Linked DNA regions of Homo sapiens. The protein of the gene in region 1 interacts with the protein of each later gene in a pairwise test. Each region holds a gene or a part of one and is shown on either strand. Other genes may lie near its edges. The genes, in order: TM4SF1 and DNAJA1.

Region 1 (3,397 bases):
GTGAGACTCGAGGAAGCTTGTTACTGACAGCTAAAGTGAATGCTATAATTGTGTTGCTACAAAGATGATATCAGAATAAATGCTGGTAGGTCGAGCATGTTTGGTTTTGCCTTTTTCTTTATGATGAAAACAATGGTATATTAACACCAGGGCCAGACTACGACATTTTCATGCAGGTTCTTACCTGTTGGTGAGAGCAGCAAAAGCCACATATGCCTCCAAGCACTCCATTTATTACTTGAATAAGACACAAGATGAATTCAATTCCACCAAGAGCCAAGAGGATAGAAAACAGAGATACATTCCATTCCACAATGTGCTTGGGTTCAGTGCACTCGGACCATGTGGAGGTATCCAGAAGGTACCTGTGGGTAAAAAGAGAAACTTCTGACACACGGTCATACTTGAGGGGATACTTCATAAACTACTTTTGTTTGGTGGTTTTTCATTCAGAAAAAAGGAATGAATTATTCAATATCCTGTGTAAGTTTCTTCCACTGCATGTCATTCCACAAAATGGAGGAATTTAGCCCAGATCCTACTGTAATGATAAACATAAAATTATAATTTATAATTTTTGACCCCAATCTAGGATTACATGGTCAGAAATTCTCACCTTATAATGATATTTATATTCCCTAACAGGCATCTGAATTCTTATAAACAAAAATAAAAATGCAGAACTGTATTTGTGCTGTGTTTAAAGCTAGGTAAGATTCATGTATGTGTAGGAAGTAAACTACGAGCAAATGCGGAAAAATGAAAATAATTCATGTGCTAAAGTAGAGTATGTGTAGGTGTTTTTTAAAACTGTTTTCCAATTTTATTGTTGTTATTGGTATAAAAGATGGGTATTTGTATTCAATATTGAGTGAATATTTAGAAAATACAATCTCTTTAGGCTAGTTTTTTTTTTGAACTTTAAAATATTAATTTAGATCATTTTATTACATCTCAATTTGTTACTGCTGAAAATTATCCAAATTCTGGCAAGTTTGGATATTTAATATGCTGGAATTTTTCAACTGAGACCTTTGGAACAAAGCTATTTTTTGTTTTTAAGGAATAAATTAATTTGCAACAGGAAGCAAATTCATGGGATTAAACCCAACTAATTTGATAGCTCTTTACTTTTTTCTGAGACGGAGTCTGACTCTGTTGCCCAGGCTGGAGTGCAATGGCGCAATCTTGGCTCATTGCAACCTCTACGTCCCAGGTTCAAGCCATTCTCCTGCCTCAGCCTCCCAAAGTGCTGGGATTACAGGCGTGAACCACCACGCCCGGCTGATAGCTCTTCACTTTCATGATGCTGTGCCCAAGAGTTGATAATAGCATGTAGCACACTGCATTTGCTCATTCAACAAAGATTATTGAGCAGTCAGTGTGAGTCTGACACTGAGCCAGAGCTGGGGATATAATGGAGCACAGGGCACGGGCTCTGTCCTGAAAGAGCATAGCTTCTAAAGGAAGAGACAAGTCACAAGTAATCTCAATGCAACAGATATGCTGATCGGTAAACAAAATATGGAAGAGCCACAGAGGAAGGGCATCTAACCTAGTCCAGGGAGAACAGCTGCTTATGTATCTATTCAATAAGGCTGAGCTCCATGAAGGTAGGAGCCAGACCTATTCATCATTGTATATCCAGCCGCTAGAACAGTATCTGACACACAATAGCCACTCAGCACATTTTAAAAGCAGTTGAATGATAAATAACAATATGAAGTTGCTTTGTGAAATGTCAGCAAACCATACTGAGGTGATATCTGACTATAGATTCTAGGATTTAGTCGATTTTATAAATACCTGGATATTCTTCCAGTCTGAAAAATTCTACTTCTGATAGCTCTCCTAGAATTTCAGCCTTTGCTACAGAGTATTTGGATTCTTAACAAAATATAATACAATCATGTGGGAAAATCAAGGTTTGACTTAATTCCACAAAGAGGCCTGGTATAATTCTTTTCTTATCACGACTTCCTTCCACAACAGAACAAAGGGGCTTGGAATTTGAGACCTAACTTTAGAATAGTTCATTGAGCCAATCAGAGATTATAGTTGTTCATTTCAAAAAAAGTTCTGTTTTTGTGGCCCTGTCTTTCTGCATGTCAGCAGAACAAAAATCTATATTTTCAGGTCTCAATGTAAAAAAAAATTTTTGGCTCCACCTGGCTCCCAGGCAACTAACCTGTGGCTTGTGACTGTTAGTTATTTCCCATATTGAAATCCTTGGACAGTTTTAAATGAAGAATGACATAGAAGAGGAGGAAGGTTTCTTGTAGAATCCAGAGTGGATAATGGGAGGGGCAAACAGTCAAATAGCTATAAAAACCATTTAGCAATACTACCACCTCTCCCTGCATTCTGGTTGCATAAGTCATGACTTTTCTTAGAAGTCTGTTTGTGCAATAGTTTTGTATGTTTGTACATATGTGAATAGCCATTTTCTACTAGTACATCCAGTATGTTCTGATAAAAGCTGAGTCATGATTGATCACAGTTTTGAACACCAAAATTTCAAACTTCTGTAAGTATCAATTTTCCTTCAAAGGCTACCATTGGGTTATGTTTATTGTAAGGTAGTAGCTAATATTAACAGCTAACAGTGGCAGTTGCACACAATGTGGCAGCCTCTGTGGGGAACATTTTACATATTATTTCATTAATTCTCATGACAATTGCCATTGATTTTATTTTACCAGTGGAGTAACTGAGATGCAGAGAGCTCATTTCACCTTTTCCTACAGATAGGTGCAGAGCTGTGATTGAACCCAGCTAATTCAAATTCATGATCTCATAACTGTGCTAAATTTGTGAGATTCATATATCCTCACTACATGCTTTAAATTCATGGGGTCAAACATTCTTGATAATATAATTTGTTATTAATATTATTTTTAATCATGAATCTCAAAACTAAACCTTTCAAAATTCAACTTCAGAAAGTTGAGTAGGGAAAAGGGAAACTCAGAATCAACTCCTGCTCAAAGAAACATGTCATCCATTCATCACCACATACATCCGTTTCTATCAGCTGTGCTGTTTCTGTTCTTTTCTGGATAACTGATAAAAAAAATAAGTATCAACATAGAATGGTAGAACAGCACAAATTATCCTGATATTATGATTGTGAATAGGCCTTACTTATATAGCTTAATAACTAAAAAAGGGGGCATTGTACATAGTTTGTATGTTTTATATGAGTGTATGTATGTGTATGTTTTATATGAGTGCATGTATACACAGGGGTAAGGGCATGGTTTGCCCTGGGCTTGGGTTAAATTCATATAGTTGCCATTCTTATTATATATGGATTCTATAATACTTTCTTATAAAGTAGTAAAATGTATTACACTTAATCAGGCAATTGTTCTGGTATAATGTATGAAGTAATTGA
Region 2 (3,833 bases), on another chromosome or scaffold:
CTAATTTTTTTTGTATTTTTAGTAGAGATGGGGTTTCACCATGTTAGGCTGGTCTCAAACTCTTGACCTCAAATGATCTGCCTGCCTTGGCCTCCTAAAATGCTGGGATTACAGGTGTGTGCCACCATACCTGGCCTGGGCTAGTTTAAATAAGCGTATTGGCCCACTTAATTGGCTTACTTGCCCATCTATTATATTTAAATGCTCCGTTAATTGATTTGATAGACTACCTTTCATTTTTTTAGACTTGACACTTCCCTAACCCATTGGGCTCCAGATTTAGAAATAACTATATAACCTTTTTTTTGTATTCTCGGGATTTGATTGATTTGTCAATTTTTAAATTTTACTCTTGTCAACTTGCAAAAACATTTTAAAATGTATTACAGCAATACACTGCAGAAATTTTAAGAAATGTATATAACCCCAGAAGGAAACTTAAGTCAACATTATGGTAATCTCTTTTCAGATTTTGCTGTTTATAAATGGGTCTACTATTATACTGTACTGTGGTATGATACCAATCTGGAACTGTTAATATTTGAACATATTTCCATATTAATATACAAATCTACATTAACATAAGTGGCTGCAATAGGATTCTATCATGTGACTCATGATACTGGCCTCTCTGACCCCCAGGGTTCCACCCAAGAATGTAGTACATTGAAAGGTAAAAATAAGTTTCCTTGGCCAGTTGTTGAACTTAATAAATCTGTGTTTACCCCTTAGTGGGCCCATGCCTAAGGTTTATACTTTGAGGTGTTCTTGATACCAATAGCATACAGAGTAAGTCTTAACGTTGTTGATAGGTTCTTGGAAACTGGGACTTCTAGCAGAATGACCTCAAATAATGTCATGCAGGTCCTCAAATAATGTCATGTCACTGTAACACAGCTGAGGGGAAAAAAATTGGTCTTGTTATGTGTCATTTCATTTAAAGCAATTTCCAAGAACCTATCAACAATGGACTGTAAGTGAGAACTTGAAATTAATGCCCTAACTATATAGCAAGTGAAGGCATTTGTGCTGTGCCTACTCTTACTCTGTATTCAGGAAAACCTAGCTGAGTTTAATTGCTTCCCTAGCATAACAAGTTATTTTGCCTCAATACACGATTAAAGACAGATTGTTTAATTTTGTCAGTGTATGATACTGATAGCGCTTTAAGTCCTTATTTAAGAGGTACGTACTGAAGTATTTGTGGGTTAATGGATATAGTTGGAGTTTGCTTGAAAGTATATGTGGGGGGCATGCGTAGGGGTGTAATACATGAAATATTAGTCATGAGTTAGTAACTGCTGAAGCCAAATTGGATGGATATGTAGGAATTCATTGTACTGTTGGCTCTGTTTATACAGGATTAATATTTTCCATACGTAAAGGTGAAACATGATTGCTCTGTTAGGTAACCAGAGTGATCTTGGGAAATAATCAGGAGATAACTGCTTTGGTGTAATACTCTACAAACACAGGTTTTCTTACATGAGTTATGTTCTAAGAGACGTTGCCCAAACCCTTACTGAACTAAAATATGTGGGTCAGAGGTGAGGGGCACGAAGTCTCAGTTTAAAAAAAAAAAAAAAGGCGTGTTTTTTTGCCCTGTTAGAAAATACTCCTCCCCTTGTATTTTACGGACCACATGGGCTAAGGGAGTGTCTAGCACTGATTGTTTTGTTTGCTTGTTTAATTTAAATGAGACAAGGTCTGGAACTCCTGTGCTCCAGGGTGCTATCCTCAGGGTATCCTCCTGACTCGGCCTCTCAAAGTATAATTACCCTTTTTTTAAGGGGACTATACTGAATAGTTCTTTAAAATACGGATTTTCAGGCACAGGGGCTCAGGTCTGTAATCCGAACACTATAGGATGCCGAGGCAGGATCCCTTGAGCCCAGTAGTTCAAGACCAGCCTGAGCGACATGAGAACCCCCATCTCTATTAAAAAAAAAAAAATTCAAAAATTAGCTGGTCTGTGGTCCTGGCTACTCGGGAGGCTGAGGTGGGAGGATCACTTGAGCCCAGGAGATGGAGGCTGCAGTGAGCCATGTTTGTGCCACTGCACTCCAGCCTAGGCAACAGAGCAAGATCCTATCTCAAGAGAAGATTATAGATTTAAAATTTTTTTAGTTTTATATATAAATACTACAATAGAAGGGTCTTGATTTACATTGCTGTTAGACTTTTAATAGAAGTAATTTGATGTGTTATAAGTAATGAAACTGAAATACTTAATTAACATTTTTTGGTTATAACCAGTGTTAGCCAGTCATGGTTTAGTACCAGCATATACCTGTTGAGTTAATACTCTAAATATTGCTAATGAGGTGTAGGTGTCTGTGGGAAAGTTGAAACTTGGAAAGGATATGCAGCTTACTTCCCCAGGGTAATCCAGCCAGTGAATAGCAGCTCTGAGATTTGAAGGCTAGTCTCTTTGCCTCTGGAGTTTGTGTTCTCCACTATGATACCTTTCTTCAGGAGCAAATTGGACTGAACTACTTAAGTGGGCTTTCTTAGTCATTTCTGTGATTTTTATGCATAAACAAACATCTATGTATAGATTTTATGATTCTGACCTTAGTTGGATATTTAATAAAAGTACAAAATTAATGTTTTGTTTTTAGGCATGAAAGATGGCCAGAAGATAACATTCCATGGTGAAGGAGACCAAGAACCAGGACTGGAGCCAGGCGATATTATCATTGTGTTAGATCAGAAGGACCATGCTGTTTTTACTCGGTAAAGACTTTTATCAACCACTCAAATTGATATCACATATTTGGGTTGTTGGTTTTGTTTTTTGTTTTTTTGTTTTTTTTAAAGTGTTTTCCATTACTCTTAGAACCTATTTCTCAGGAAGATTGTTAACCATTGTTCAGATCATAAGAGGTTGAATACATAGGATCAGATTTTTAGCTTTTTGTCTCTAAGTATGGAACGTTGAAAATGTGTTTCAATTAGATGTTTTGTGTGAACCTAAGCAGCAGATGGGTGGGGAAAACATCCCTGGACAAAAATTTGCCCTCAATCTTTGTAAAGCAATTTAAGTGCCTTAAAGCTCTCACCAGTTTTCAATCTCATTTATGATAAATTGAATTGCTTTTAATTATAAATATCCAAAAGCATCTCTGTAGGAAACTTAAATTGTAACTCAATACTAAGTATAAATTCAGGTCTACCATTTTGAGCTAAATAATGAGTATGATGAACACTGAAGCACAAGAAAGATGGATGATTAACAGCAAATGTTTGTGATCCATGGCTAACATAACACCCTCTGTGCATGCTATATTCCCAGCAACTTGGGAGGCTGAGGTGGGAGGATCACTTGAGGCCAGGAGTCCTAGCTACTGGGGAGGCTGAGGCAGAAGAGTGGCTTGAACTCAGGAGTTCAAGGTTATGATCATGCCACTGCATTCTAGCCTGGGTGACAGTAAGAACCCACCTTTTTTTTTTTTTTTTTTTAATGGAGTGGAGGTGAAATTGGGAACATCTTAAACTAGTTTAGGATTAATTAATATTTCAGCTTGGTTTGGTGGCTTACGCCTGTAATCCCAACACTTTAGGAGGCCGAGGTGGATGGTCAGGAGTTCAAGACCAGCCTAGCCAACATGGTGAAATGCCATCTCTGTTAAAAATTAAAAAATTAGCCAGGCATGGTGGCAGGCCCTGAGGCAGGAGAATCACTTGAACACAGGAGGCAGAGGTCGCGGTGAGTTGAGATGGCGCCATTGCACTCCAGCCTGGGCAAAAAGAGCAAAACTTGGTCTCAAAAAAAAAGACTAATATTTTACAAATGTCTGAAGATAATGGGAAATGTTGTCAAGCTCAGGCTT

The links.
Region 2: the proteins of TM4SF1 (region 1) and DNAJA1 interact in a two-hybrid assay, tested with the Homo sapiens proteins (one large-scale study listed by BioGRID and IntAct).

Annotation. Positions count from the first base shown.
Region 1 is NC_000003.12:149,371,503-149,374,899, forward strand, and holds part of TM4SF1 (transmembrane 4 L6 family member 1), read right to left. Parts: intron 366-3,397; coding exon 185-365; coding exon of another isoform or gene 165-184; exon of another isoform or gene 100-164; intron 1-99.
Region 2 is NC_000009.12:33,031,595-33,035,427, forward strand, and holds part of DNAJA1 (dnaJ homolog subfamily A member 1), read left to right. Parts: intron 1-2,621; coding exon 2,622-2,736; intron 2,737-3,833.